Homo sapiens: one gene and its partners. The protein of the gene in region 3 interacts with the protein of the main gene of each other region in a biochemical or structural test. Each region holds a gene or a part of one and is shown on either strand. Other genes may lie near its edges.

Region 1 (4,304 bases), about 120 Mb from region 3:
ACACTGGGCCAATAGATTAAGCAACGCTTCTTTTCTCTATAGGCTCATGAGCGCTCAGAGAGCTCAGAAGTGGCTTTTGTGATGCAGCTGGTGAAAAAGCTGATGATTATCATTGCCCGCCCAGCACGTCTCCTGGAATGCCTGGTGAGTGGACTCTAGGAAAGTCAGGTGGGCAGATTTAGAGGAGGACTATAGAGGAAGTATCCTGATGACAGCAAAACTGTGGTGGTAACCACTGCCATTTCTGTTGCTTAGGTCCTTATTTAAATATGATTTGCCACCATTGGGGGACTAAACAGGTTTTTGTGAGGACAAATGTATGGTCCTGAGGGGATGCGGCAGGGAGAATTATTAGTCTAGGCCACCCCCACATGAGCAGGGCTCACATCAGTGGGGGTCTTGGGGGTGAGAAGCGTCAGGAGCATAGCCCAGTTTAGTTTGTACAAGTTGAGTCCTTCATTTTATCTTCAGCAATACTTGACTGAGTACCTACTTCCTGCTAGACACTGGAGATACAGACATGAATAAAGCACAGTCTCTGATCTTGGGATGTTTCCTCTACAGTGGAGTTGGGAAGCATGAGGCATGAGGACATGTAAATAGTAATTACAATACTGCAAGAAGTGTTGCAGTTGAGGTCAGTACACAGCGTAACGGGAACCTGGAAAAGGAAGTGCTTTAGTCTTCCCTGGAAGGAACATTCAGTGAATGCTCCCTGGGGGACGTGAGGCTTATTCAGCAAACTGAAGGATGAGTCTAAGTTTCCCAGATCGGGAGCATGGGAAGGAGCATTCAGTGGGGCACAGGGTGGGTTTGAAGAAGTGCTGAGGGGTAAGCCTGGAAGGTAGGCTGTGACAGGGTCATGGAGGGTGTCGGGTTCTCGGCTCTGGAGTTTTTCATTACCCTTACGGCCACTTGGAGACACCAGAAAGTTTAGGTAAGAATGTGACATGGCCGCATTTACTTTTTTCTTAAAAAATATTATTAAGGTATAATTTTCATACAATAAAATATATCCCTTTGATGGTACAGTTCATTGAGATTTAACAAATACACACTTGTAGAATCGTGGCCACAGCTGACATAGAGAATATTTCTGTCATATAAGTTCCCTTGTGCCCCTTTGAAGTCAGTCCTCTCTTCCTCCTGCTCCCAGACAATAACTTAACTGCTTTGTTTCACTAGGGATGGGTTTGCCTTTTGTACAGTTTCCTAGAAATGAAACCATGTTTCTGTGTGGTTTCTGTAGTATGTTCTGAATTCTTTCACTCAGCATGTTTGTAGAAATTCATACATGTTGTTGCATGTATCAGTAATTGGTTCCTATTTATTTCTGTGTAAATATTACATCAGATTTAGTCCTAAGAAAGATTACTTTGGCTGCAACATGGATAGTGAATTGGAAGAGAGGGCAGGATGAGCCAGGGACATCAGGGGAGAGGTACTCAAAGCAAATTCATGTGAGATGGGGTGGCCAGAACTCAGACAGTGAATGGTAGGATAATAGAGAGAAAGAGGTGGATTAGAGGGGTATTTATGAGAGAGACATTCTGACCAAATAGGAGCTAAGGAAGGATAAGAAGTTAAAAGGACTTCCAGGTCTGGCGTAGGTTATATCCAGATAGGTACAGTTCTCCAAAACAGTGAGGCCACAGGGAATGAGAACAGAGTTCAGGGCAGAGGCTATGCTGTGATAGAGCAGAGAGCCTCTCCCTCAGGAACATGAAGTCCTTGGCTAAGCAGGGGCTTGGAGTCAGACCTGGGCTGAATGCTGGTTTTCTGTTCCTTCCTACTACTGTGATTATGGACAAATCAGTGCATCCCTGAAAGCCTTGATTTCCTCAGTGAGGTCAAAGAGTTGCTAGAGGGTTTAACCCAGTGTGTGGCACTTAGTAGGCACTCAGTTATTATGTGCAGACAAGGATTGTGCTTTTCAATGGATTTCCAGCCTCTAGCACATAGGAGGTGCCCAGTAAATATTTGAAGGTATACATGCACCAGTAGGGCTTTGCCAAAGCTCTTGTGAGCCATAATTGAGTGTGTGCCAGGACAGCTGTGGACTGGGCATCTGAATACACCAGACAGTGCCACCTGGCTGATGGAAAGCATGGGACCAGATCAATAGGCTGAGCTCTCTTTAGAGTAAAACCTCTAGTTCTTACTGCCAGGAAGACAGCATATGCTTAGCATGTCCAATCTGGAGGTGACCTGTAAGACATCTTTGTCCCCATTCCTGTGATCCCTGAATCATGTTGTTTCTGAATATTCAGGGGTGGGAGTGTCCTATCACAGAGAAAGTCTTGTTCATCTCAGTCTACTATATGCTGTAAAACCAAAGATGCCAGCAGCTTTCGCTTATATCTGTCACCACTGACTATCTCTCTCCCTTGGTACAGGAGTTTGACCCTGAAGAGTTCTACCACCTTTTAGAAGCAGCTGAGGGCCACGCCAAAGAGGGACAAGGGATTAAATGTGACATTCCCCGCTACATCGTTAGCCAGCTGGGCCTCACCCGGGATCCCCTAGAAGGTGAGCATGCTGCCTAGTGGCTGCAAAGAGGCCCCACTGCTGCTGGCAAGCTCTAACAGCAGGGAAGCTGCTTGGAAAAGAGACTTAGCTTGGACATGGACACAACATGGCCCCGGGGGCCTCAGGATTTTAGGAGATACCCTGTGATCTCTGTGACAAAACAGTCTTTACTTTGGAACTGCTGTTCACATCTGCCTGATAGATCCCAACCTGGATTGCATTGGCCCGGCTGAGTTGCATTTAGAACCTCAGTTCCAAAGAGGTCAACAACAAAGGGCCACAATCACATTTGCAAAAATGGTCACCTCCTCTGCAACTTGCCTCTACTCTTGGCCACCTTACAGGTCTTCCTGTGTCTTTGGGGTAGTCCAACACAGGGCTTCAGAGGATACTGCCATTCTTCTGGGCTTCCTGCTGAACCCCTGCAGCAACCATGGGCTTCCAAGTCCCTGGTCTGTAGGTATCCTGCTCCTGCCTTCTGTGCTTCCCAGCCCCATCCAGTGAAGCAGTCTTGGCCAGCAGGATGGGAACTAGTAACCCAGTTTCAGGCCCTGTTTTCCAGGAAATGTCCCCAGTTTATAGAATTTGCCAGGCCCTGTGAATGGCAATGGACTTCTGGAAATGGGAGTAGCAGTAGGATTTGGCTTGTTTCCTGATCCAAAAGCTGGGACTACATTGGGTATAGTGCCATGGGACTGAATTCACATCCTAGGCTGATGCAAAAAGCATTAATGACTACCCTACATGCACCTGTTGTGTGATCTGAGGATACTGCTGAGATACCTGACATTGCCACGCACATTCTTCTCTTGTATCTTTGTTTCCAGAAATGGCCCAGTTGAGCAGCTGTGACAGTCCTGACACTCCAGAGACAGATGATTCTATTGAGGTAAAAACCCTGAGCTCCTACCCCATTCCTGGAGCCTGGGCCCTATGAAGCAAAGAGCTATGAATTCTCTTTAAGAGAATATCTGAGGAAGGGATGGGGGAGTTGGTGACAGCAAACACTGAGAAGTCATTCTACTCCCAGAAGAATGAGCAGGAGACTGCACTAGAGCTGACAGCTGAGAAGATGCTAGAGCCACAGCTTCTGCAAGGATATGGGCTCTGAGAAGCATGCCTGTCTCCTGCCTTTTCCCTTGTCTTCCAGGGCCATGGGGCATCTCTGCCATCTAAAAAGACACCCTCTGAAGAGGACTTCGAGACCATTAAGCTCATCAGCAATGGCGCCTATGGGTAAAGGCAGGGGTCAGGGTGTGGCCAGGACTGAAGCCGGGTCAGCCTTTGATCTCTTCCATGTGAGAGTGTATGCTGCCCAGTCCTCTGGGCAGATGCCTCGGGGTGGACCTTCTCACTCCCAGAAGCCTCCTGGGTGGGCAGGAGTTCAGATTCCTCTGACATCCGATCATTGTTCCTTTCCCAGACAAGATTCCCACGCCTCTTACTACCACGCATCCTCCATTCCCTGAGCTCTGGGGAAGCATTGAGCCGTGTCATCAGGACATGGTCTATCAAGAAGTTTAAGAGTTCTATGGACCAGGGGGTCCCAGACCCTTCTCACTGATATGCATGCCCTTGCCCCCTTGTTCTGTGCATTAATTAAGGTGTGAGAGAAGGCAGTTTGGGTGGCAGAGAGCACAGCTCAGGTGCTGAGGGTCCATGGGGGATGGGCCGGACTTTGTTTCCCAGGGCTGTATTTCTGGTGCGGCACAAGTCCACCCGGCAGCGCTTTGCCATGAAGAAGATCAACAAGCAGAACCTGATCCTACGGAACC
Region 2 (4,304 bases), on a different chromosome or scaffold from region 3:
GTCATATATGAGAAAAAAGAGAGACATCAAAGATCACTCCAAGATGCCTGGCCTGGAAGGATGGGATTGCTATTGCTTGAGATGAGGAAGACTGGAAGGAGCATACTTGGGAAGGTGGGCCAGGGGAATGGAGGTAGAGTCAGGATTGTGGTTTTAGATATGCCTATTTACTATTCAAATGGAGATTCTAGGCAGTCAGGTCAGTTGGATATAGGAATCTGATTCTGCGAGACAGAGGAGCAGGTCAGCAATAGAGATATACACATGTACACATAAAGAAATATAAGTGAGTGTGTGTGTGTCAATTATCTGCATATACTTGATATTTAAAACCATGAAACAGTATTGGGAGAAGAAATGAGGATTAACTGAGCTTTGAGGTGTAGAAAGGTTTAGCAAATCAGGATGTCGAGGAAACCTCAAAGAGACAGAAGGAGGTGACAACGAGGAAGGAAGATAATCAAGAGAGTATAATGTCCGGGAATCTAAATGAACACTGAATAAAATGTAAAGCCTTTCCTGCATATTCATTTATTCATTCAAAAAATATCACCTGACACTTACTATGTGTCAGTCCCTGTGGAAACAAACATGGTCCCTGCTCTTATAGGGACTGCAATCCAAGGGGGATATAGATAAACTTGTAACTGGTATTCCTGAAAGTGCAGGGTGTTTTGAGAGAATACACTAGGGGCAACTGAAAGAGTCTTGCGGGTCAGGGAAGGCTTTCCTGAGGAAGCAGTATTGAAGAAAAGACCAGTATGATGAGTAAAAATCAGCCATGGAGCAGAGGGAGGAGGAACAGGGGACAGTAGAGGGAAGGGTAGAAGAAAGGACCTGACAGGAGTTCAATCTAGGAAGAACAAAAAGAAGTAACAAGTGAGACAGAAGCGCGGACCAAATTACCAAAGTCCTTTCAGACTTCACAGAGGTCTGAATTTTATTTCAAAGGAAATGGGAAGACAGAAAATTGTCTTATAGGAGGTAATGTAACGATCAGCTGGAGTACAGTGGCGCGATTTTGGCTACCTGCAACCTCTGCCTTCCGGGTTCAAGGATTCTCATACCTCAGCCTCCAAACAGTTGGGACTACAGGTGTGCGCCACCACGCCCAGCTAATTTTTGTATTTTTAGTAGGGACCGGGTTTCACCATGTTGCTCAGGCTGGTGTACAACTCCTGACCTCAGGTCATCTGCCCATCAGGAGGATCATTCTGATTACAGTAGGGACAGAGCTGCGGAAGGGGACAAGGCTAAGTTATTGGGAAACTCCGTAGGGAATCTGTTTCTGTGGTTCATCAGTGAGATGCAGCTGACCTGAACTCAGGTGGGGGTAGTGGGTATTGGGAATGTGGACTCCACAAGACTTTGCATATGAGGAATGACGAGACGGAAGAGTGAGAATGCTGACCTAGTTTTTGACTTGGACCAATAAATAGATGGTAGTGCTACTCAGCGAAAGAAGGTGCACAGGAAGAGGGAGAGTCAGCGGTAGCGGTGAAATCTGATGAGTTTGCAATGCCTGGGGAATATCCCCCAAAAGTGTTCGGTAAATAGGCAACTGGCTGAAAAGGTCTAGAGATCAACCATAAAGCCTGAGATAGAGGGGTAGATACGGAGTCACCAGCACACAGGAGAGTGCAAAATAAAACCCAGGGAGTGAGAAAGAGAATACAGGAATGGAAAGGCCTTGGCTCTGGATAAAACCAACAATGGGGCAAGAAGAGGAAGAAAAACCCTACAAAAGAGGCAGATAGAGAGGGAGATAGAAAGGAGGGGAGGAGAAGAGAGAGCGCCTGAGAAGGAACTAGGGAGTCTGGGATGAAAGCAAAAGCAAACTGTCCAGCATTCCAGAAGGAAGAGTCAACACATGGATTCATACAAACTCGTACCCAGAAAAATGTCTTATTGTATTGTTTACAGTATTTCAAAATCAACCAACAAGTGTATTTCATCAGCCATAATACATTTCAGTCATAGAATAATCTTAGCCTAGGTCAAGAAGCAAAACAAAAATAAGTTCATTTGCATTAGTAAAAAGTTTAATAATAAAGTGACAAAAATTCTATTACTGGACAAGAGTATGGACTACAGATAAAAAATGAAATAAATGTTAGAAATGGAAAAAAAATCATGTGGTTAAGAAAGCTGAGGGAAAGTTTTCTCTTCTTTGGCTTAAAAAAAAAGTTAAACCTTGAAAGATGAAGCTATATGGATATGAAAAGGGGTGATAATATCATAGAGGATTCAACAGAAGAATCTATATAAAGTGATTTTGTGAGCAAAGTTACTCAAGGATTGGTGTCAGAAGACTTCACGGACTACACACACACACACACACACACACACACACACCCCAAAAATCACTTAAGAGGTTCAGAGTGAGTGATTTCAAGTTTTAAAAATACACCTTGAGATGTATAAAAGTATATAAATTCGTGTGAGTACCATCTGGACCATCCTTACTGTATAATGCCAAGACATATTCTACTGAACTGTCCTAATTTCTTATTTGAAGAGGGCTGTTTATTTGTTTTGAGGCTTCCAATATATCCTGGGGGTGGGGAGGCCTAAATGTATATCATATATCAACACAATAAAATTGCAATGCTTAAGATGAACAAGAAATCTCTGATTGTTTTTCAACAAAGCACAAGGCCTTATTCAGAGAAGGTGGAGTTGGCTAATTAGATAAAGCATGAAACAGAGACTCCTGTTAATTCATTACATTGATTTCTTCTGTCCTATAAAGTTAGGTTTTCTTGGCTGATTAACAGCATTACTATTAAGACACACATGCTCATCTCTTTGTTAGTTAAAAACACAATAATAAATGTAGTATCCAAACACATTATTGATTTTTAAAATTTTTTAAAGAGTGATAGTACCACTGTGGAATGTAGTGCTTCTAATAAAATTGACGACAAAAATTAAATGCAATGTTCAAAAACCTAAATATCAGCCCAAAGTATTTCATTAGCAACTAACTCCCTATTACTAAAAAATATTCACAAGATTTAATGTGTATCAGAAGCATCAATCACAGATTAAAACACGTCACAACTAAATACAGGCAATAATTACACAAGTTCTCTTCACTCCCAACCCTGAGGTTTTAAAATGTTTTCTGACAACATATATCCCCTTTATTTCCACTTCCACATAGAATCTAGGCAAAATACCTATTCTTTAGAAAGTCAAATAATATTGTAGTTTAATACCAAACCTAAATACTGTATATATATTTCACATAAGCAAAACACAGGTGATATTGTGTTTTCTTCATTGCTAAACTTAAAAACAAGATAGCCATGCTGCCAGCAGTAAGGTCCAAATGAAAACAAATTTCACAGCCGTTAAAAAATACATAACTGTCATTGTTAATAAAAGCCAAGTGTGCAACAAACTGGAAATACTGCTTGCTAGCCAAGGACAAGATGTGTCTAAATTCTTGGTTTCAGGACATCTCTTAAATGACCAAAAAAAAAAAAAAAAATCAAATAACATTAGTTCTTGCAAACAGAATGCAAATACAATGCTAATTAAAGTATTCACAAGACAATGACAAATAAGGCTTCAGGACCACAATACATATTATTATGTAACTGCAATACACATTAAGCAATCACCAGGTTGCAGGTAGGCCTTCCAAAAGGAGTTATTATGGTTTACCGTGATCAGAGGATTGTGGTGTTCCACTTAATCATGCTTTTGCCTGCAAGCAGGTGTTTACAGATGTCAAAAAGTAAAACACTGATTCTAAATGTAAACCTACAGTTCTGCCTAATAAATTGTACAGTAATAGCACACTGTACCTCACAACGTTTTCTGCATAAACTTTCTAATTCGACATGAAGTAAGCTGCATGAAGCAAGTTTCTCCGCTTGCTTTATGAACCAAAATTTAACTTCTGATTCATTTTTATTAAAATGCCAAAACTCACACACTTAGAGCCAGCCCTTGTTTCAAGGACTATGAAGTTAAAATTTAACATCCGGTGCAAAAGAAAGTGAGACAGTGAATGAGGGTTCATTTGGGTATGTTATTGTCTAAAGTAATCCTCAACCCTTCAATGAAAACATAGGCATCTCAAAAGTAAAATTTAAAGGATAACAATATTCAGTCTATTTAAAGAACAAATTACAGGAACCGCCAATGATAAACATAGTATATTCATAATAGAAGTAAATTCCGAATACTTCAATCTCCAAACACGAGGAAAAAAAAAAAAGGTGAGAGGCAACAGAGTATATGCGTGTCATAAATCAATGTATTTTCTATGATTTCTGTCCTGCCTGCTCAAA
Region 3 (4,304 bases):
AAACCTTAATAGCCACCCACCATCTGACATCCAGATTACAATATTATTGACATTTCTTTCCCTGTTGAGTGGATATAGGAAGAAACAAACTCAGTTTCTTCCTGCTATACTGTCACAACATACTTCTATGACCAAATGTATGGGGCTTTTTCCCACACACCAAGCAAGCAAGCAGTTCTGCAGAGGGCACACAGTGTCCTCTAACTCAGTTTGATTCTGATACTATCTACCTGGAAACAGCATCAGATCCCACAGTTTGAGGGCTCAATCCCACAAGACTTTCCCCCATTTCAGACACCAATCACAAGTAATAGTTTGTCACCTACACCTCTGACCAAGTGGCTATAAATTGGTGTTCCCACTACCCTCTCCTTGGACTCAACTGATTTGCTAGAGCAACTGACAGAACTCAGGAAAACACCTACATTTACTGGTTTATTTTAAAGGATATTATAAGGGATACCAATGAACACCAGATGGAAGAGATGCATAGGGCAGGGTCTGTGGGAAGGGTGGCAGAGCTCCCATGCCCTCCCAACGTGCACCACCCTCCAGGAACCTCTAAATGTTCAGCTGCCCGGCAGCTCCCCACACCCAGTCCTTTTGAGTTTTTAATGGAGGCTTTATTATGTAGGCATGATTGATTACATCATTGGCCACTGGTGATTAGTTTAACTTTTAGCCCCTCATCTCCTGGAGGTTGGGGCGTGGGACTGAAAAATCCTATCCTCTAATCATACCTTGGTCTGTCCTGTGAGCAGCCCCCATCCCGAAGCTTCCAGGGGTTCCCCAACCACTAATCATCTAATAAGCATACAAAAAACACTCTTACCACTCTGGAGATCTCAAGGGTTTGGGGAGCTATATGTCAGGAAACAGGGATGAAGACCAAACATGTATTTCACTGTATCACACCTGTTCTCACCCCTCCCCAGATCTTCTCTCAATTAATATGAGACAAAAAAATGAGTCTGACTTCTTGACCAAAATATCAGTTCTGTCCTTAGCAGCTTTATGGAGGACAGATTTAGTTTAAATTCCTTAGGCATTATGCCCCTGTGGCTCCACTCAATCAGAAATAGGGTCAACGGCAAGGTCAGGGCCTCCAATCTGGGCAAGAGGGAGGCAGCCACGGTATCCACAAGTGTAATTCTCTGAGTGCTGGTTGCTGGGAGGGGCACACCCTGGGCCAGCAAGTCACTTGGCCAAGGGTGGCCAACTGTGAGGTAGCACTGCCCTTTACTCCCTAAAAAAATGTGAATCTCTTTGGAGCAAACTCCTCTTCAGAAATTTGAGCACTTGTTTTCTGAGCAAGGGAATCAGCTAATGCTTTTGACTCCCCATCCATCTTCCTGCATCCTCGTCCCACCTCTCCTGCCCCCACTCACCTGGCTCTGTCTTTACCCACACCATGGTTTTGGTACAAGAACACCCTTTTCCCCATAAGCTACATTGGTCCAGGCCATAAAAATTCATTAGTTCCCTTTCTTCAGGGGCCTTCTGAAATGCTCCCTGGAGAACTCTTTATTCACTTCTTTGCACAAGAATCACATATGTGTGAACACTGGTATTGGCCTTCTAACTCAGTTTCTTCAAACCAGGGTCCTGGTCTGGTTGCCCCTGTCTCCTCCCACTGAGTTTTATCTCCACATAAGTATTGCTCACCAAGAACAGAGCTGTTGACACCACTGGGCCTCAAGCATGCTGAATGCATTGCTGCCAACTGCTCTGCCTTAAGAAGGTTGGAAACTGATGAGGGTGCCACAAATTGTTCACCTCAGCCCTTCTGGGCTGGTTGGAGGAGGCCCTCTCATGAATCAGTCAGCAAATGTTTGACCCCTACCAGGTGGTCCTGGTAATATGTGGTATGAATCATGGTCCTAGATGTCTGCCATAGCAAATAAAAAAGGAAGACAGGGAAAGAAGCTGTCGCCTACAGAGTGGCTTGATGACAGCTGCCTCACTAATTTAAAAAGCCATGTGTAGTGCTTCCTATTTCTCACTATGTTTGGGTGAGTGGGAGAGGGAGAAAGATTATATGGGCTTCGTTGTGACACTGTTCTTAGCCAGTGGGTCAATAGATGAGTTTTGGTTTTGTTTTTTAGAAGACAGGATGAGAAGAGAGTGCCCCCTTCCACCTCCAACATGGCATGCCATGCTAGGTGCTGAAGGAGTTCTCTAAGCAGGGATGGAGCACCGTGCGTGTGTGTGTGTATATGTGCACGTGTGTGTGTACGTGTGTGTGTGTGGCAGGTCTAGAGGGTCGATGGCTCTTTCCTGCCTCTTGCCCTTGGTATGGGTACCTTAGTGATGCATCATGGCCCTCCCTTAGGACACACAGCTTCGCAGTGCCAGTGAACCCACTCCTTTTGGCTCCTCCTCTGGAATGATAAGCCCAGATGCCCATGCTGCCCGTGAAGGGCTTCTTCTTGAACTGAATGTGGAGGGCATCTCTGGTCCCGGCCATCTGCCAGTGACTCTCATGTGCATTCATGTCCCTCTCTTCTCTCTGTCCTGTCTTCTCTGCCGCTGCCTCTTCTCTGCAGGTACACTTGCTGAAGGACCAGTTGGCTGCTGAGGCTGCGGCGCGGCTGGAGGCCCAGGCTCGCGTGCATCAGCTTTTGCTGCAGAACAAGGACATGCTCCAGCACATCTCCCTGCTGGTCAAGCAGGTGCAAGAGCTGGAACTGAAGCTGTCAGGACAGAACGCCAGTAAGCCAGTGCCCTGCCCAGCCCTGCTTCCTCTGTGAAGGCTCTGGAAAGAGTGTCACTTTCCTTAAGTTTTTGGTGGTGCTTTCTTGGACCCCTGACCTACCCCTATATTCCAGCAGAAAACATAGGCAGCTTTGTTTTCCCATTAGTATACTTAATGAATTACAGAATCACATGCCCAAAGGAGATCTCGGGTGCCTTCTAATCCAGGCCCAGGGCTGGACTTTGAATGTCCCCGGAGTCACTGCTATGTGCTCATCCAGTCTCTATTTGATAGGGGCTCAGGTACTCTGTGTTCTAGGGCAGCCCATTTCTTTCTCAGAGAGCTTTTGCAATCAACAAACAGTATACTTGGCACCTATTGGGTGTCATGGTCTCTGTGAGCTCTGTGGGAGACAGCAGATTGTTTCTTAGTTTACTACTCTGCACTATGTATTTCAAGACTCTGTCACACAGAAAAAGCTGGGAGCAGTATATCTGTTCAGTGGATAAGGCAGTGGAATCTGGCTGCACTGCTCTGCTGGGCAATAGCAGAGGTTGCCTGGCCCCTGCTTGAGAAGCTGTCTCTACACTCAGTACCCCTGGGCTGGGCTGGGCAGCTGTAGATCGCAACACATTTTCACGCCTTCCTCTTGAGCCTTTCCGTGGGTTGTTTGCATGCTCAGAGTGTGTGTGGGCTGTGGACCAGCAAATAGCCATTGATCACATATTGTGCCAGAAACTGTGATAGAATTTTTTGCCTGTGAGCTCATTTAATCCCTGTAGTTCTGCTGCAGAAAAATGGGATGCCATTTTACAGATGAGGTAACAGACTCAGGGAGGTTAAGTAACTAGCTCAAGGTTATAGGCCTAGCAAGGAGCAGAGCCAAGATTCAAACCTAGATCTGATTGCAAAATTTTGTTCCAACTATACCAGTGGTTCCCCCAAACCATCCCATGAGCTCTTTTAAAAATGCGTCTTTCCTACTGAGATCCTACATCGTTCTGTCTAGGGCTGGTCTGGGAGCCTGTATTTTTAAAGTAGCCCAGAGGTGTGGATTGGAAACCAGTGCCCTTCACCACTCTGGAAGCCTCTCTGGATTTTCCAGATTGTTCATTGAAACTCTGCTCTATCCTAATTAATGCTTATTTACATGATTGTACTAAAGGTTACCACAGGCTTCTAACATGGTTCTCTCAATTGGTACCTTTTTCCTACCACTAACCCTATTCAGAGCCTTCAGTGGCTACCAGAACCATCATATGGTTCTTATGTCCCCGCCTTTACCACGTCCCAAAGCTCCTCCCCTCCAGCGAGGTGTGTCTGGAGCTATGTGGGGGCGGGAGGAAGGGTGAAGTGTTAAGAGACCCAAAGCCCGGAGAGGTGCTGCTAAGCTGGTCTGGGAAGGGCTTTGGCAGGGCACGGGCGGGCAGAAGGCGGGCATCCCAAATCAACAACCTTGCCTAACGCTGCCCCTCTGCTACCTCTTGTCTCCCCTGCAGTGGGCTCCCAGGACAGCTTGCTGGAGATCACCTTCCGCTCCGGAGCCCTGCCCGTGCTCTGTGACCCCACGACCCCTAAGCCAGAGGACCTGCATTCGCCGCCGCTGGGC
Region 4 (4,304 bases), on a different chromosome or scaffold from region 3:
TCAGCTGCTTCAGTAAAAGGGTGATATGGCAAAATTTCAAAATCCTGAATGGAAAGAGCTTCAGAGGAATTCATCTGGATGCAACAGTGCATCATTCTCTGAGATTTTTGACTTAAGAGAAGACAGATGTGCAGGCAGCTGAGAAATGCTGTGCTTCCTGTTCTTTGAGTATCTAGAATATAGGGTGTAGGCTACAGCTTGTATTAAAACCAACGATAACAATCCCACCTCCCCTGCCAGTTGAAACCCCTGTCTGATGCTGACTTGTAACTATTCACATGTGAAGCTTCTGAGTTACTGCTTTGTTGTTTTCTTTGCTCCAATGTAGAATTCAGAAGGATGCAAAAGGAAAAACAATTATTAAAGACGAGGATGGCATTTATTCGTTCTTATAAAAATAATTTATTTAGTAGCTGCAGTCTCTGTTCTCTCTGGCTTTCCCTGGAAAAAGACACCACTCCAGACTGTCCAGGGCTCCCCTGGTACCTGTGAATGTGCTGTTAGTTCCTGGTCTGGTTAGAAGATGATGTCTCTGTGGAGATACATACTTGGCCTCTTTCTTTCTCCCTGGGGTGAGGGACATTTTATGTATAGGAGATGGAAGAATAGACGGTCTCTTTCTCAAGCTCATTCCTGGTTATTTTCAGTACTTAGCTCTTTGCAAAAACTGCGTAATAAGTGTCTTAGTGAGAGTGTGCCTTGTTTATGTGCTGAAAACCTAGATTCACACATATGTTTCCAGATATTTTAGCTACCAGCATAGACCCTCAAACAAGACTGCCAGCTCCGGAGATGATCAAGTACAGCCTTTGTGTGGTGCAGGAATTCCCCTAGCATACCCAGCCTCCCTCTGCTTGGACCTACCAACCCCCACCACCTTCCTATTCCATCCTCAGTTGGCTCTGGTTATTACAAAGTTCTTCATTATTCCAAGCCAAAAATCTTCCTCTCGGCAATGGTTGCCCCATTGGCCCGATCCTGTCCTTTGAAGCCCCACACACAAAAAATCCATTTCTTCTTCCCTATGACAGCTAGTTAGGCCACTTGGACCTTCAAAGACAGGGATCAGGCCCCCACATCTTCACTTCTTTAGGCAGAATGCCCACTTTATCTGGCCCCCTGAAAAGCTAAGAATGGGACACCGCTGTGCAGGTGGGGGTCTGATCAGCCCAGACAGGAGCAAGCCCACTGCAGCCTCACTTCGGAATCTATATTTGCGTTAGCACAGCCTGAGGCCAGTTAGGTCCCGGTGGGTCCCCCTTCTGAGCTGTGCACTGGGCCACTACGGAACTGCATGCACTTTGGCGTCAGAGAGACCCGAGTGTCCTGGCCCAGTGGTTGACGTGGGGTCGGGTGAGTGAGCCCCCTCTCTGGGACTCAGATCCCTCATCTGTCTGACTACTTCTTAGGTGCTGTATTTTTTCCTGTAAATGCTGTAACAAATCACCTCAATCTTGGCTTAAAACAGCAGAACTGTGTCCTTGAACAGTTCTGGAGGCCAGAAGTACAAAATCGAGATGTTGGTAGTGCTGCTGTCCCACTGGAGTCTCTAAGGGGAATCCTTCCTTTGTCACTTCCAGCTTCTGGTGCCCACTGGCATTTCTTGACTTGTGGCTGCATCACTCCAGTCTCTGCCTCCCTGGTCACGTTGCCTCCTCCTGTCTGTTTCAAATCTTTGTTTCACTCTTATAAGGACACTTGTCCTGAGATTTAGGGTCCATCTGGATAATCCAAGGATAAGCACGTCATCTAAAGATCATTAATTTAATTATAGGTGTAAAAATCCTTTTTCCAAATAAGATCACATTTACAGGTTCCTGGGATTGGGACTTGGAATTATTTATTTATTTATTTATTTTTGAGACTGGGTTTGGCTCTGTCACCCAGGCTGGAGTGCAGTGGCATGATCAAGCTCACTGCAGTGCTGATCTCCTGGGCTCAAGTGATCCTCCCACCTCAGCCTTCTAAATTGCTGGGACTATAGGCGCACACCAACTGGCTAATTTTTAAATTTTATTTTTAGTAGAGATGAGGCCTTGCTATGTTGCTCAGACTGATCTCAAACTCCTGAGCTTAAGCAGTCCTCCTGTCCCAGCCTCCCAAAGTGCTGGGATGACGGGTGTGAGCTACTACATCCAGCCAAGACTTGGATATCTTTTTAGGGTGGCCGCCATTCAGCCATTGGCTCTCTACTTTCTCTACTTTTGCAACTCCCTTTTGTTTCTATTGTATTTGAACCCAGCTCTCCAGGGTCACTGGCCTCAGATCCTCAGGCCACATGTCTTCTGTCTCCTCCTTCCTTCAGCATCCTGGCTGCTGCTCTGAAGGGTGCCGGGGCTGTTCCTATCACTCCTGTTGTACAGATGTGGGTGGGGCCCTCAGGGATTAGGCTGCCTAGGAGAAAGCTCAGGTCTTTCTGGTGCATACCCTCATTTCCACCAGCATGCTATGGCGAGTCCAGTGGAGGTTTTGTCAGTGGGAAGGAGAAGCTGTGGCTATTAAAATATTCATTGCCGGTTCTCAGACGTAGGGAAGATCCCACAGTGAATGTGCTCTGGACAAAGAAGGGACACATAGTGGAAGACTTATGTCTTCACATTTTCCCACTAATTTAGACTGAGATTGGCTCACTGAATTTGAGGGAAATTATATTCTCAGTGCCCAAATACTCTGTAAAAAATCAGGAAATGCTCCTTGACAACCCTGTAAGGGCATAGTAGTATCATCTTCTTGCCCTACAACTAGCCTGTTTCAGAAGTTCCATGGTCCTTTAAGTGTGATCTCCAGTCTGCTGCTGGCTTCTGGGCTCTCCAAATGCAACTCCCACTAAAATGTGCTTTTCTCCACAAAGAGAGTGCGCTGCTTTGTTTGCAGTTGACTTTTCAAGCACTAAAAAAAAAAAAAAAAAAACAAAACTGAGGGGCAAGCAGAAGAGCTGCGTCTGGTGAAGCTAGTAGTGGAGCTGAGAGAAAGCAGGGGGAGGGTAGTGGCCTGGGAAGTTCTGGACACTGAGCAGCTCCAGACTCTCCACTCATTGCTGCCCCCAGGATTCCTGTCCGACGGCATCCTCCTAGATGGCTGCTGCACTCATTTCAATGTGCTTTGCTAAGAAAGGCCTGTGTGGGGATAGGGGCTGGGGAGGAGAGGCGGGGAGGGAGGAGAGAGATGAATCAGACAGTCCCTGCCCCACCTGCGGCTGGAAGTAAGTCAGTGCTGGGCAGGGTGCTGTGCTTTGCAGAGACCCTTGGGAGCCTAGCAAGGGCTGGCCATGCCTTGCAGGGAGATCTAGGAGGGCTTCTGGGAGGGACTGGCATTTGAACCGAGCCCTAGTGGGTGACTAGGAGATAAAGAAGAGAAAGATGGATAGAACAGTGTATCCAAAGTTGACCTCAGGTGGCCCCCTTCCTGGTCATCATCCGATGGAGCTGCACTGGAAGAAGCTCAGGTCTTACAGGGACCTTAAGGACCATCTAGTAAGGAAGATATTCAGACTGCACTGCTTAGAGACCTCCGCTTCTCATTTCTCTTAAAGAACAGTGATTTTAAAGTAGGTTTAAACAATGGGTTTAAAGAACAGTGATTTTCCATTTTGACAAGGCTTGTTTGGTATAGCCACTTCAAAATATCCCCACATCAAAATATGATGCTTTATCTGGGATATCTTTTCCAGACTTTGGGAGCCTTCCCTCCTGCACTTTCATTTCTGCAAGGCAATACTCCCCAGACAGTGTGGTCATGGGGTGTTGCTGTGTAACCTTCCCCACTTGACTGTGAGCTTCCTGGGCAGGGACCGAGCCTTGCTGCTCATTCAGTACGGAGCCCAGAAGGAGGCCTGGGGGGTACAGTGTTGACCGATGAAATGAATGAATGCATGGCTATGACTACTTCCTTAGCTGCATCTGGCTCCCAGCTGCCTTCATTGGTCTCTACAGTCATCAGTAGTATCCTGGCTAAGTCAAGAGCATATGTGGGCCTCTGTGTTTCTCCATCTTATATTCTCTCCTGGAGTTGGTTTGCTATATCAGCCAAGTTAGTAGAGACTTGGAGGGGTGGTGCCCCCTCTCTGCACTTTCAGAGGATAGGGAGGCGGTGGACCTAATGTCCAGCCCCTGGAACTGCTGCCTGTTGTTCTGTGACATGGCCAGACTGACCTGGGAACTTGCTAATTCGGTCCAGCTGGCTCTTCTTGGTGCCTTGTAGTCTTAGTACTAGAGTCACAGAGGCAGGAGGGTGCAGGGGGAAGTACCCAGGCCTTTGACTTCATCAGGCCTGAGTTTACCAGTTGCATGATCTGAGGCCCATTG
Region 5 (4,304 bases), about 17 Mb from region 3:
GTGGCACTTGAGTTCAGGCTTTGTAACATGAATAGATTTGGGAAAGTAGACAGAGCTGGGATAAGGAAGATCATTCCAGGAAGGTGGGAATCATGTGAACACAGTCAGGAGACACTGGCACAGTTTAATTGGCACATGATGTGTAGTACAAGAATTCGTTGGAAAGGTAGGTTGGAGAGAGGTGACAAGGGGACTTCTATGCAAGACTGATGAGTTTGAACTTGGCTTATCAGACAATGGGGAGTTGTTTTTTGAGCAGTATAAGGGAGAAGAACAAAAACCAGCCTATAATGTCTTGGGGGCTTTGCACATCTCAATTACTCCTAACAATTATGCAAGAAGAACTGCTGAAATTGAGGGCTTGGAGAAGATACAGTAATTATGTAAGGTCAAATAGTTGTTTAGTTCCAAAGCCCATGCTCATTCTGTTGCACCAGGAAGTGACTTGGTTAGGAATGTGCACCAAGATGGATCTGAAGGCAGATCTGTATCAGACAGAAGGACTGGGGAAGGGAAAGCAGTAGGTAAGGTGCTGTAATAGTTTAGGTAGAATTCTAGGCAGGAACTAATACAAACTGCATTCAGGGTAGAGGAAGTGGGATGTGTAAGGTATTATGGTAGCATCAGAGGACTTAGCAATCGTCTAGATATGGGGACTGGATGCTGGGGAAGAATCAGTTGCCAAGTGTTGGTGACTGGGATGATGTTGCTCCACTAACAGGTAACCAAGAGGAGGGGCTTTGGGATGGAGAATGGGCAGAGCTGATTTTTGGCTTGAATACATTACAGTTGAGAGATCTATGAGATATTTTGTTGGAGATACCCAGCAGCTAGCTGGAAAAGTGAAACAGGAACTTGTTAAAAAAAAAAAAAAAGGCAGCATCTGGTGAAGATACCAGAAGGCCAAAGCACATGGAGGCATGTATATACAAATATATTCAAAACCGAACACACCCAATTGCTACTAAAATGCCAGCCTGGGTTTCTTAAGGTCCAAAGTTTTGGGTTTTGTTCTTTATTCTTCCCCATCTTTTATGACAGCTTTTACATAAGACGCGTGGCTACAAGTATGCCCACTGACTTTCTGGGAACTTGCAGCCTTTTAATATGCTATTTTGCCAAAATCAAATGTCAGACGCTTTTAGTAACAGGATTATTTTCGTTAAGACCCCTTCATTGTTAATTGCTGGGTTAGTTTCTGGGGTGAGTTCTGAGCAGGAAACGAGCCTAGATAGTGTGCTTATAAGCTTCCTGGGATGCTGGTGGAAGGGGTGGTAGTTGTACTCAGCATGCCTTTTTTATCTGTTTCATCAGGGCTTTGGGCTCCAGCAGAAAATCTGTTTTATTTTTTTAGGGGACTTACTGATAATTTTATTTTTTGGGGTTGGGGGAGGGTAGGTCAAATCATCAAGGACATAGATTCTGGAAGTCCAGCAGAGGAGGCTGGCTTGAAGAACAATGATCTGGTAGTTGCTGTCAACGGCGAGTCTGTGGAAACCCTGGATCATGACAGTGTGGTAGAAATGATTAGAAAGGGTGGAGATCAGACTTCACTGTTGGTGGTAGACAAAGAGACGGACAACATGTACAGACTGGTAAGTAATACAAGGCCATATATTCATGCATTAAGGCTGGGCCCATTCACTCATGACCTCAACTTTTGCACTGAGTTAGGACTTTGTTCCTCAAACTGGAAGAGGCATAACAATCATCATTAAGGCTAAACTGAAGCTCAACTCAAATTGGTAGTGATAAGAGAATGCCAAATGATTGATAAATGAGTTTTAAGTCCTTGGTCTTAAGATTTTGAAAGAATTTGTGAATATAACTGCAGGCTTACTCTTGGTGATCTGAGAAAATCTATGGAGAATATAAGCCTGGAAATAAAATTGTTCCCAAAATAGGAAACAATTAGATTTTAAGCTTTAGGTCAGTTAAGTGCTATCAACTGCACATAAAAGCCTAGAAAGGATTATTAAACAACTTGTAAGCCCTTAGCAAATAAAAAAGAAACACAGATAGACCAAGACCAACCTGAATCAAACTAACTTTATTTTCTCTTAACAGCTCTTTATCATAACACCCACTACTGCATGTTTTAAGGTTTTTTTTTTTTTTTTTTTTTTTTTTTTTACTTTTAACACAAGAACTGAGGTTGTCTAGTTTAACAGATAACCTGGGGGGCCTTCTAAGTACCATCTGTCTTGCTAAGTGTTGATTGTAAAGATGAACAAGATAAATGTCCTCTGTGATATACAATGATAGTAGAATCTAAAATAAGCGGTACAGAGGGGGGAATATGATGGGTGGTGATATCTTAGGCCCTCCTCATAGATTAGGAAACCGAAGCTTAGAGAGACTAAGCACTTTGCTAAAGTCACGCAGCTTAGTAAAGACTGAAGGTGGTATCTGAACCCAAATTCTTGGACCCGTAATTCATTATACCATACTCCCCAGCACATTTTTTCAAGATAATCTTGTAAGCAGGATTAAACAATTAATTAGATTAATGGCTTTTTTTTTTTAGCTACTTGAACAATCATACCTAGAAAATACTTGATATCAACCTGAATATCAACTTGAATAGAAGTCTCTAATGGCATGCTACTTGTTCCTAACCGTTTATGTGCTTAAAGTTGAAAGGAGATATGGAAAATATATTAACATACTTAAAGTGGCACTAGATAATTCATTTGCTGGATGGTGTAATTAATACTCAAAATATTTAGTTAGGATAGAAAGAATGAAAACTAAAGAAATAAGAATAAATTTCAGATGTACTATACTAACCTAAAAGTAAATTGTATGAATACCACATGGTGAGACCTGATTTGAGGACTACAGAAAAAGACCAGAAACTTCATAGTCCAAGTGGTTGCCCCATCCAAATATGGTAATTTAAAAATTAACTGACAGACACTTGGCTTCTAGAGATGACCATCTTACTGTACTTACTTGGTCAGACCATACTTGGAATACCTGGTAATATAGTTACCACCTCTCTCTGTGCTTCAGTTTCCTTAGTTGTAAGAGAGGGGTAGTAGCTACAGCGAAGGGTGGCTATGAGGGTTGAATTGGAATATTCAGAGCATGTAGAATAATGCCTCACACATCTAAATGTTCTATTTGTTCAATCAATATTGTGTCCGGTTTCAAGAACTTCACTTTAAGAAGGCAATGACAAGGGTAACCAGGGAAGAGGTTTTGGAAGCCACCATGTGAGTATTTAGCTTGAGTAAGGCTTTGGAGAAGAGAGCATCTTCAAGAATTTGAAAGGCTATTACATGTAAGAAGGAGCACACTTTTTTTTTTTTTTTTTGAGACGTTGTCTTGCTCTGTCACCAGGCTGGAGTGCAGTGGTGCCATCTCAGCTCACTGCAATCTCCACCTCCCGGGTTCAAGCGATTCCCCTGCCTCAGCCTCCTGAGTAGCTGGAATTACAGGTGCGCACCACCATGCCCAGCTAATTTTTTGTATTTTAGTAGTTTTACCATGTTGGCCAGGATGGTCTCGATCTCCTGACCTTGTGATCCGCCCGCCTCGGCCTCCCAAAGTGCTGGGATTACAGGTATAAGCCAACACGCCCGGGCCACACATTTTTTTTAAGGTGTCCTATGGGGCACAACAGGACCAGAGAAGCCATAGGGAGCTAGCTTTTGGCTTAAGAACCAACTGAAGCTGCCAGAAATGATGAGTCATTTTGCAGTTGGTGGAAAGTCAAGCAGAAATCAGAGGCGGCTGCTGCAGCTGTTTGTTGTAAAGGGGATTCTGACCCCTCCTGATCTTATCATAGAATGATTTAATTGTAATTTTTCTGTTTTGGTTAATAGAGAACTTTGATCGAAAAAGAAGCCTGCCCTCATCATCTCCTTCCCCGCTCTCCAAAGTAAGCCCTGTAGGTTGGGGTGGAGGGTAGATCTTTGAGATACATCAGTGAGTAAAACACAACCCTCTAGCAGTCCCTGGCACATACTAGACACCCAATTATCTGAATGAAGCATGAATAAAATCTCATTTTTTTTTTTTGAGACAGAGTCTCCCGCTGTTGTCCAAGCTGGAGTGCAATGGTATGTTCTCAGCTCACTGGAACCTCTGCCTCCCAGGTTCAAGTGAGTCTCCTGCCTCAGTCTCTCAAGTAGCTGGGACTACAGGTGTGTGCTACCACACCTGGCTAATTTTTATATTTTTAGTAGAGAATGAGGTTTCACCATTTTGGCCAGGCTGGTCTCGAACTCCTGACCTCAAGTGATCCGCCCACCTTGTACTCCCAAAGTGCTGGGATTTCAGGCATGAGCCACCAAGCC
Region 6 (4,304 bases), on a different chromosome or scaffold from region 3:
TCGTCCCCATTATTGACAGCTTTCTCCTCGTATTGAAAGCTGCAAAGAGAAACTTTCTTATTTGACATGATGGTGTATAATAAAAGGGAAGAGGACTGAAACGATGAGAAGGACCAGTGGCCTGGTGGAGGGGAGCCATCCAGAGGGTCAGAGGCATGGGGTCCTGCCCCACTGATCTCCTAAGTTGGGGCAATGCTCTTGAGACCTGGCCGATCGCAGATCCACGGGAAGCTACAGGGTAGTGCCACAAGGTCCCAGGAGACTTTCCGCCAGCTTCCCTCAACGGTGACATCTTAGGTAATGGGTGCAAAACCAGAACCAGGAAGTTGATGTGGGTACGAGCACAGAACCGCCTTCCCCAATTTATCGTGTGTGTGTGTGCGCTTCGGCACCTTCTAACAAGCACCCGGGATTACCTTCTCAGAGTGTGCACCACGCAGCTTCTGGAACACAGAGCTTGGCTGTTCTCCTTGCTGCCAGGCTAGTTGCAGAGTCAGATAATCAGACAGACAGGCTCCGCTGGGCCCGCGCAAAAGCAGAAGAGGGGTGTGCAGGTGTCTCAGTGTGCGCGGCGTGGGGTGGAGCTCGGCTAGTGGCTTCACTTCTCCAGGCCTGAGTTCCCCCGTGTGTCTCTACTGGGAGATGAGATGGAACTGGATCAAGGATGTCAGAGTCCTTAGCTGGGCTCCAGTTGTCTGCAGATCTCTCTCCATCAAATGCATCAGTTTGTGTGTGGTGCATATGGTGTAGTAGTTTTTACCAGGTGTCTGCAGCTTTTACCAGATTTTTAGAGGCCATGTGACCATCAGATCATTGGGCTCAACGACCTTGGAGGCTGTGCTCAGCTGCACATGATGAGCACCCATGCCTGCCCTGGGGGAACCTCTGGTCCCTGGCACAGCTGAGCCTCTGTTCCGTGTACTCCAGCCCTGGGTCTCAGCACAGGACTGCCCTGGTCTTGGTCTGCACTGGTGACCTGCCTGAGCCTTCACAGTCCTGGTGGCTTTGCACAGATGTGCATGCCTTCCCTGGGACCCCCCTGCCAGGATCTGACTCCGGTCCCCGCTGAAGGTAGACGGCTAAGCCTCCCTCTCTGTGTCTTCTCCTTCTCTCTCCTAGAAAAAGCTCCCTGTGTTGTTGCTGGGTCACTCGGCCGACCTGCGGCCTGGGGAGTTTGTGGTGGCCATCGGCAGTCCCTTCGCCCTACAGAACACAGTGACAACGGGCATCGTCAGCACTGCCCAGCGGGAGGGCAGGGAGCTGGGCCTCCGGGACTCCGACATGGACTACATCCAGACGGATGCCATCATCAACGTGAGTCCCAGGGACAGGAGGCCGGGGCACCTGCCATCTGTGCCCAAGACCTCAACCTCGAGGTGGTCTCTGACTCGGCTTGCCCCCCTCCCCAGAGCCATTCTGGCACTCGACACATCCACTTGCTAGAAAGTTCTCTCTTTACATTCGGTGGAGCTCTAACCCTGTGACTTCCACCCCAGGGTGCCAGGCACGCTGGGAGTCAGAGGCTGCTGTCCTCGCTCGGGCAGCCTTTCAGAGAAACAGAGGCATGGCCACAGCCCGCAAACACCTTTGCCCAGCTTACACACCCTGGCCAACATTGCTTTTCATTATTATTGTGATTATGTTGGTGGCACGTTTAGCATTCACAAAGCACTTCACCCAGATGCCCCAGATCACGTCCATCCAGCTTTGCCGCAGCTCAGGCACTTGGCTGGAATCCGAGTCTTTGTAGAGGGCCCCCCCAGGCCAGCAGGATGGGAAGTAATACCCCCATTCTCCATGCACCAGGCGGTGCTGCCTGGCCTCCGGGGTGTAGATGCCGAAGCGTATGGTTTGTGCAGAGAACAGTGACAGTCAGACCTCGGTCATCAGGCAGCCATCCACATGGCCTTCTTATCTGTGAAATGGGGGCAGCACTGAGGCCTTTCGATGCTGCTGAGGATGAGACCTGCTTATGTGTCTCTGCACTGGTTAGAGGCAGATCTGGAGAAGGGGCTCCAGGAAGCCTCAGGCGGGGTCAGGCACAGCTAATGCTGTTTCCTCCCCTTGCAGTACGGGAACTCCGGGGGACCACTGGTGAACCTGGTAAGTGTCCCCTAGAGCCAAAATCTCTCAGGTTTCTGGGGTTCTTCTCACATGGGGGTGCTCAGCCTTGAGGTGGGACAGGGCCCACAATATGGTCCTAGAACATTTACACCAACAGTCGGGAGTGCAGCTGGGCCGGAGGCCTGGAAGGAGGAAAGACCAAGGCTGCCCCAAGCGCCTCGGGGATGCTAGTGGCCACCAGGAATGAGGACTCACCCATGAGCAGCAGCTCAGTCCAGGGCCATGTGCCTGTCAGGGGAGCTGGGGCAAGGGAGACGCAGGTGTGGGGCTGCTCACCTCAGCCCTCCCTGCCCTGGATGTACACACAGGATGACAGGGGCACCCTCATTCTCCCCTTCCCAGTTGTGTCTTGAGCCTCAAAGTCAAGCTCAGCCTCATCCCAGGTGAGATTTTTCCAGAATAAACCAGGAAGCTCAGTTCAGAGCTCCTAGGCCCTGAAGGATCGGACGGTCCCACCCCTGAAGCTCCTATCCATGGCTGGGGAGGTGTCCAGATGTGAACAAGCCCAAGCACCATGTGAGCCACATGAGATAGCTCTGGAGGGACGCTGGGCAGGAAGACCTGGCAGCTGATGTGAGATCAGGGAGGGCTTCCTGGAGGTGAGAGCATTATACAACAGCCATCGAGATTGAGGAGGACTGGGTACAGGAAGAAGAAATCCCAGGGAGAAGGCACAACATGAGCATTGCAGGAGGCTCTCAGAGGCTTAGGGAGGGGGAGGTCAGACAAGGGGACAATGAAAGGGGCTGGTGGCCCATGTCCTGCTGCCTCAGGCCTCGTGTGCAGATGGGGCTTCACCCTATGTGCCCAAGATGTCTCCCAGGCTTTTGGCAGGGCTGAGGCCGTGCCCTGGTTTCAAGGAAGCTCGTGTGTGTGGTTTAGGCTGGAGGCCAGAAAGCCAGGCCCAGGAGGCTGCTCCGCATGGTCCAGGCAGTAGAGATGGGCACAGAGGGCCGAGGGTGGACACAGAACTCAATCTACTGGATCTCACACTCGGATGCTCTTCCTGCCTCCTGAGCTTCCAGGGACCAGGAGGACAAAGGGTGCCTTGACCCAAAGCTCTGCCCCAGGCCCCAGAGGGATCCCTGGTGAGCTGGCCAGGCCCTGACAGGGAGGGCAGGGCTAGGGGTATAAGCCAGGCTGTGGGGTGGGGCTCCTTTCCAGGAGTGTGCCTGAGTGTGAGGTCCCCAGGGGCCAGGTCAGATCCTGCCCAAGTGGTACCAGCCTCATGGGGGGCAGGGCAGGTTTGGAGGGTCTCCAAAGAGAGGGATGGGGGGGTCAAGGAGCTCCCCTGGTCCCACCTGCCAGCCCCCCACTTCTGGAAGGTAGGGATAGACAGGGTCTCTGTCCCCGACAGGCCTTACCATGTTCCTCCCTCTCTCGGTCCCTCCAAACATGGCTTGGCGGTGTCCTTGGCCCAGTGGCCGTGCTTCTTAGAGGCAGAGTGGCCAGAGCCTGGGGGCAGGCCCGAGCTGCAAGCTTCCCTGGAAATACTCTCCAGGGATGGGGAAGGGGGATCTCCAGGATTTGGAGAGGTAGGGTCACTGACACAGGTGTGATCCTGAGAGTGAGCTTTTCAGGGGAGTTGGGGGCTGTAGGGGGATTGACAGCTGGGGTCAGCCTCTAGAAACAGAGCTGTGGACACAGTGCTTTGTGGGCAGGGGTTTGCCTGGGTTCCCCCAACTGATGCCTGCTCTTACCTCCCTGCCCAGGATGGCGAGGTCATTGGCATCAACACGCTCAAGGTCACGGCTGGCATCTCCTTTGCCATCCCCTCAGACCGCATCACACGGTTCCTCACAGAGTTCCAAGACAAGCAGATCAAAGGTAAAGAGCTCACCTGGAGGGGGCCAGAGGCAGGGGGCACTCTCCCAGGGCTACAGCCCCTTAACACCCCAGCCCTGGGACCAAGGCCCACCGGAGGTGCTGGGTGAACTTTGCTCACTACTGGACAGGTCCTGTCTGCCCACCCCAAAGCTGTGAGACCCCCAGGACAGCTTATCCTCAGCCTCTTTCAGGATCTTCCCCCTGCCTATCATCGATTCGTGATCGGCTTCATCCCCTGCCCCTCCAAGGCTGTCTCCTTTTGGCTGGGGAATCTCCGAGCTCAGCTCCCACCATCAGCTTCCTGGACTCCCTGGGCTCCTCTCATTTGGGCTGCTCTTTAGTTGTCAGGTGTT
Region 7 (4,439 bases), on a different chromosome or scaffold from region 3:
TTGGTCGAGCCTCAGATGAAGTTAGGAGGCTTGCATTTATGGGCCATGCTGTATGCAAAATGTTTGTCTTTAAATGCTGGCCCAATAGAAACAGAGACAGATTGAGAGGATGAAAGATTTAGTTCTCCCACTCATGTGCACTTCAAGGCTTACACTTATCGGTTGGAAAGTTGGTCTTTGCAGAATGTTTAAGGTTATCTTTCTCTTTCTCTTTTTGCCTAGCACATATCATTAAACTCATGTAAGTAAAATGCACGTAAGTTCAACAAGCATCACTTTGTGAAAGTGATGGTATAAATCTTGATGGTCATTTATTTAAGAAAGCAAAATAAAGCAGGACTCCTGGAAATGAACCTAAAGTTATGATATACCTTCTGGGGAAGGGCACTGCCTGGAATAGCAAAAGATAATTAGGAGGCCAGAGATCTCACTCAACTGCAGGGGCCAGGCCAGGTGTGATGTCAGAGTAGTTAGGGAGGGATGCAGTTGCCAGGTGAGGGAGATGTCATGCCTGCTCTTGGGTTGGAGTGTGGCTGAGGGGAGTGAGGGAGGCAGCAGAGCCTGGGCTGGATCCTGGGTGCTGCCTCTAGCAGGATTCTCTTTACACCTTACAGGCTCCCAGGGCTATCCTTGGGTATCCCCAGATACCCAGGGGTATCTGTCCACACTACTGTGACAAATCCTAAGTATTGTACTTCAGCTCAGATTTATCATCTGAGCTTCAAATCTGGCAGTCCGTTGAACTTGTTTACTTTGATGTCTTAGAGATACTGTAAATCCAACCTGCCAAAACTAAATGCAGTTGTCAGGAGCAGAGACCTGGGGCTCCCAGCTGTGTCATCAGGGCTAATGGAGACCTCAATATGGGGCCTGATGTTGGAGAACTGGAGACATGAAGGGACACAAACCCCAAACTTTGTTGTGAGTTTAACCGTAAGTAAATAGGACAATTATAATACCTTCATATTTCAAGCCTGAAATGCCCAATCTGCTTCTATGAATTTCCTCCTGAAAGGCAGAGATGAATTTGGTGGCCCAAGTCTTTAAAGGACAGCTGTCCAGAAAAGTTGGGCACAGTGTCTTTTCTCAGTAAACATTCTGTAGCAAGCAGAGCCTTCAGAATGGTTTCACTGACTTCAGAGCTGAACTGGGATTCCTCTTAAAAATACCCACTGAAGAGTTTCAGGACTTGGTGGGGACCCTGGTTCTGGGGTCCTGCTGGTTTGTATGGGAGACATGGCTGGCCAGGAAGCCCACGTGAAATCTCCAGATTCTCCTCTAGTTATCATCTGTCTATAAAAGCCTCCTTCTGTTGGACAGCTTGGTGGGCAGAGAGTGAGGGCAGGAAGAAGCTGAGATCATTACACAGAATCAGGGGGTGAGCAGAGAGCCCCGTGTACTCCGACAGCATCAGGGTCTTGCTGAAAGTCCTGCTACATTAGCCATGAGCTGGCCGGCCTTGAACCCTGGGTGAAGAACTCCACCTCTTTACCCATCATGTCCACATGCAAAACATGAGGCTTGCTGTGAAAGAATGTCTCTATCTTAATGAAATTCTCCAAATTTCCAAGTCTTGCCCTTTCCGTGAAATAGGCATACAGGCTTCTGGTGCCTCTTTATTCCCTATTCACCCTTTCCCTATGTCCACAGTTGAGCCCCAGGTCAAATCTCCAAGGGCAGCCTGATGGCACGTGCAAAAGGATAGAAGGAAAGGCAGTCGTTCTCCCAACTTGTGGTGGGATGATGGCCAAGATTTCACCCTTGGGACCACCAAGTCCCCCTGGACAAGTGGGGAGCAAATCGCTTTTTCTTTGGTTGAACCTCAGATGAAGCCTTGCCTCTTGCCTCTCAGGCTGATGGCTTCCCTAGGTCTCTGTCCAGGCAGAGCCAGTAGCTGGAGCTCCGAATCAAAACCAGAGGGCAAGGAGCTTATTAGAAGAGGTGGAGGGAGTCTACGGGTGGGAGGTGAGGTGTGGACACTGAGGCAGCTGCAGTGGCCAATGGACACACACAGCTGCCATCTTCCACTCCTCAACAAGGCTTAGTGAGCTCAGAACGGAGGGAAGGGGGTGCTGCTTGAGGTGGTGGGGACAGTGGTGAGCCTAGGCCTGGGCAATAGGCTAGATTTCCCATTCTTTGATAAAACTTCTTGAATGTTTCTTTCCCATGTTTATAAGAAAACACAGTTTCTACATGATTTAGCCAAGCTTAAAGTCAATTTTCCCTGCAAATGCTCAAGAATTAAAAATGTCTTTTGACAGTGAGTGTTCCTCTTCAGTCTTTGTAGAATAATTTCTTTTTTATACACTTGAGTGTGCATATATTTACATGAAATTCACTATTTCACATACCTTGTAGCTCTCATGAGTGGAAATAATGTCTCTTTCACAGTGAAGCTCAGTTTGGGACAGATGCTTCCGGCTCTACTGGGGAGGAGGACGTGCTCTCTGGGTATCTAAGGGTTTGTAGCTATTGGGGTGCACCAGAGCCAATTTTAAGAGAAAGAGGCAATGCAGGAAAGGAGAAGGAGAGCAGCAGCACATAATAAAGCCAACCCATTGATTTGGGTGGGGGTAAGGAGGCTGAGAAATGAGGATCCATGTATTTGCTAAATCTTTGTGCTTTTCTCTTAGATATTCCTTCTCATCTCCTCTAACCAGACTTTCGACAGATATTTTCTGAGCACCTTCTCTGCATGTCTGCAGTGCTGTGTAAAATGCCCTACCTTTGCATGGACTATTCTTTCTAATCAAGAGGCGTGTGTGGCGAACTTGGGGCAGCCCCTGGAAGTCTTGTTCTTTGACCATTACGTCTGCGGCTGCATCACCAGATAATGAGCTTCACCACTCGTCTGCCTCCTGTGTCCTTCCGCGGGGAGTAAATGTCACTTCAGCTTGCCGCATCTCTAAATAGGCAAATTTTCAGTGCTCAGAAAAGGACCTGATCTTTGCACAAAGTGCTTTGATGGTTGCCTGCTTGAGTCACTCCCAATCCCTTCCTGAAGCCCTTTCTTTATAATTCTTCTGTTGAAATAGCCATCATATTCACAGTACTAATCACAGCATCTCACATTTACTAAAAACTTACCCCATACCAGGAACCCAGAGTTGGGGGGGCTGTGTCAGAATTATGTAATTTACGTGTCCCAATAATCCTAGACGCTTCTTGACCATCTAGTTTTGTCAAATGAGAAAACTGAGGTTCCAAAGAAGTCAATAAACTTGTCCAAAGTCTGACCGACTCTGCTTGCCATGTGACGAGTCTGTCTTAGAACTGGGTCATTGCCCTGCTTGCAATGCTGTGCCCTCTGGCAAGCCCCCCCATCCCCCCGGTCTCCTGAGCTCGGTAAGGTGCTCCAGCTGCTTCTATCATAGCACTTCCTACATGGACTGTAACATTTCTTTACTGCTCCAACTTCTCATTAAATTGGGGGCTCCTCAAAGCCAGGGTTGGTGCCTTATAAGTTTCTTGCTTCCTGGTGCCCAGAGCAGCCTCTGGCATGAGCTGTTTGAACACTGGCTGAGTCTCACGGGCCTGTGTCGTGCAGAGTATTCTAAAAGGCAAGGGGAAGGTGGGGTGAGGAATTTTTTTTATCAAGGCTGGAAGAAACATGGGCTTCTGTATTCTAGTCCTGAATTGGATGGGGAGGATGGGGAAGGTGACATGTACCATCCATGTGGAGCCCCTTCTCCCACCTCGGAGGATGAAGAGTATCTTACCATCAACTCTACATGCCAAGGCCAGCTACCCTGTGAAGAATGTTTGGAGGCAGATTCTGGGACCATTCCCTTGCCACAGTTCTGCTCTTGGGGCACTGTCCCAGAGTCTTTGCCTCCAGAAGAGTCCCCAGAGAGTGGGAGTGAATGGGAAGACCTGGAGGAGCCTGTGGCCCTGGAATACGGTGCCCTCAGGTGGGTATCACTCTGGCTGGGTGGACTGGGGCTGAGCTCTGACCAGAGCAGGGCTCAGTGCTATCAAGCCACTTCAACTGGGGGTGGGGGATGGTCTGTGGGCATTGCCCAGTTTCCCCTGCATCTTCTTTGGGGGTCATGCGTCATTGTAATGGCCATTTTCACAGAACACTTACCATGGCCCTTGCACCATGACAACGACCTACAACATGGGGACTGTCATCACCCCCATTTCACACATGACACATTTGGGGCTTTCCCAAGGTTATCCAATAAGTAAGTGACAGAACTAGAATTCAAACCTGATCGGTTCCCCACTCCACGGCCCACCTGTCGAGCACCCATCTGTTCTGCCTCCTATGTACAGGAGTGTGCATCTCTCTCCTCAGGTCTCTCTCTTTTGGGGGTCTGAATGTCTAGTGCTGATTCCTGTTTTGCCTGCTCCTACCTGCCCCTCTGCTGGATGTACTGCAGAGAAGAGTCTTGGTGTCCTGTCATAGGGCCCATCTTGTTGGACTGCTGTGGCTG

What was found.
Region 1: the proteins of NOS1AP (region 3) and MAST2 interact in a test that uses a peptide from one of them, tested with the Homo sapiens proteins (one large-scale study listed by IntAct).
Region 2: the proteins of NOS1AP (region 3) and ARHGAP21 interact in a test that uses a peptide from one of them, tested with the Homo sapiens proteins (one large-scale study listed by IntAct).
Region 4: the proteins of NOS1AP (region 3) and FRMPD1 interact in a test that uses a peptide from one of them, tested with the Homo sapiens proteins (one large-scale study listed by IntAct).
Region 5: the proteins of NOS1AP (region 3) and PDZK1 interact in a test that uses a peptide from one of them, tested with the Homo sapiens proteins (one large-scale study listed by IntAct).
Region 6: the proteins of NOS1AP (region 3) and HTRA3 interact in a test that uses a peptide from one of them, tested with the Homo sapiens proteins (one large-scale study listed by IntAct).
Region 7: the proteins of NOS1AP (region 3) and FRMPD2 interact in a test that uses a peptide from one of them, tested with the Homo sapiens proteins (one large-scale study listed by IntAct).

The regions. Positions count from the first base shown.
Region 1 is NC_000001.11:46,019,554-46,023,857, forward strand, and holds part of MAST2 (microtubule-associated serine/threonine-protein kinase 2), read left to right. Parts: intron 1-42; coding exon 43-144; intron 145-2,396; coding exon 2,397-2,529; intron 2,530-3,356; coding exon 3,357-3,418; intron 3,419-3,679; coding exon 3,680-3,765; intron 3,766-4,218; coding exon 4,219-4,304. UniProt on the Homo sapiens protein: Appears to link the dystrophin/utrophin network with microtubule filaments via the syntrophins. Phosphorylation of DMD or UTRN may modulate their affinities for associated proteins. Functions in a multi-protein complex in spermatid maturation.
Region 2 is NC_000010.11:24,716,776-24,721,079, forward strand, and holds part of ARHGAP21 (rho GTPase-activating protein 21), read right to left. Parts: intron 1-4,304. UniProt on the Homo sapiens protein: Functions as a GTPase-activating protein (GAP) for RHOA and CDC42. Downstream partner of ARF1 which may control Golgi apparatus structure and function. Also required for CTNNA1 recruitment to adherens junctions.
Region 3 is NC_000001.11:162,362,858-162,367,161, forward strand, and holds part of NOS1AP (carboxyl-terminal PDZ ligand of neuronal nitric oxide synthase protein), read left to right. Parts: intron 1-125; exon of another isoform or gene 126-2,492; coding exon of another isoform or gene 2,493-2,546; coding exon 2,547-2,712; intron 2,713-4,194; coding exon 4,195-4,304. UniProt on the Homo sapiens protein: Adapter protein involved in neuronal nitric-oxide (NO) synthesis regulation via its association with nNOS/NOS1. The complex formed with NOS1 and synapsins is necessary for specific NO and synapsin functions at a presynaptic level.
Region 4 is NC_000009.12:37,657,025-37,661,328, forward strand, and holds part of FRMPD1 (FERM and PDZ domain-containing protein 1), read left to right. Parts: intron 1-4,304. UniProt on the Homo sapiens protein: Stabilizes membrane-bound GPSM1, and thereby promotes its interaction with GNAI1.
Region 5 is NC_000001.11:145,675,740-145,680,043, reverse strand, and holds part of PDZK1 (Na(+)/H(+) exchange regulatory cofactor NHE-RF3), read left to right. Parts: intron 1-1,398; coding exon 1,399-1,595; intron 1,596-3,830; coding exon of another isoform or gene 3,831-3,886; intron 3,887-4,304. UniProt on the Homo sapiens protein: A scaffold protein that connects plasma membrane proteins and regulatory components, regulating their surface expression in epithelial cells apical domains.
Region 6 is NC_000004.12:8,290,251-8,294,554, forward strand, and holds part of HTRA3 (serine protease HTRA3 isoform 1 precursor), read left to right. Parts: intron 1-1,119; coding exon 1,120-1,314; intron 1,315-2,070; coding exon 2,071-2,103; intron 2,104-3,836; coding exon 3,837-3,951; intron 3,952-4,304. UniProt on the Homo sapiens protein: Serine protease that cleaves beta-casein/CSN2 as well as several extracellular matrix (ECM) proteoglycans such as decorin/DCN, biglycan/BGN and fibronectin/FN1.
Region 7 is NC_000010.11:48,155,565-48,160,003, reverse strand, and holds the end of FRMPD2 (FERM and PDZ domain-containing protein 2), read left to right. Parts: intron 1-2,633; coding exon 2,634-2,682; 3' UTR 2,683-3,442; downstream 3,443-4,439.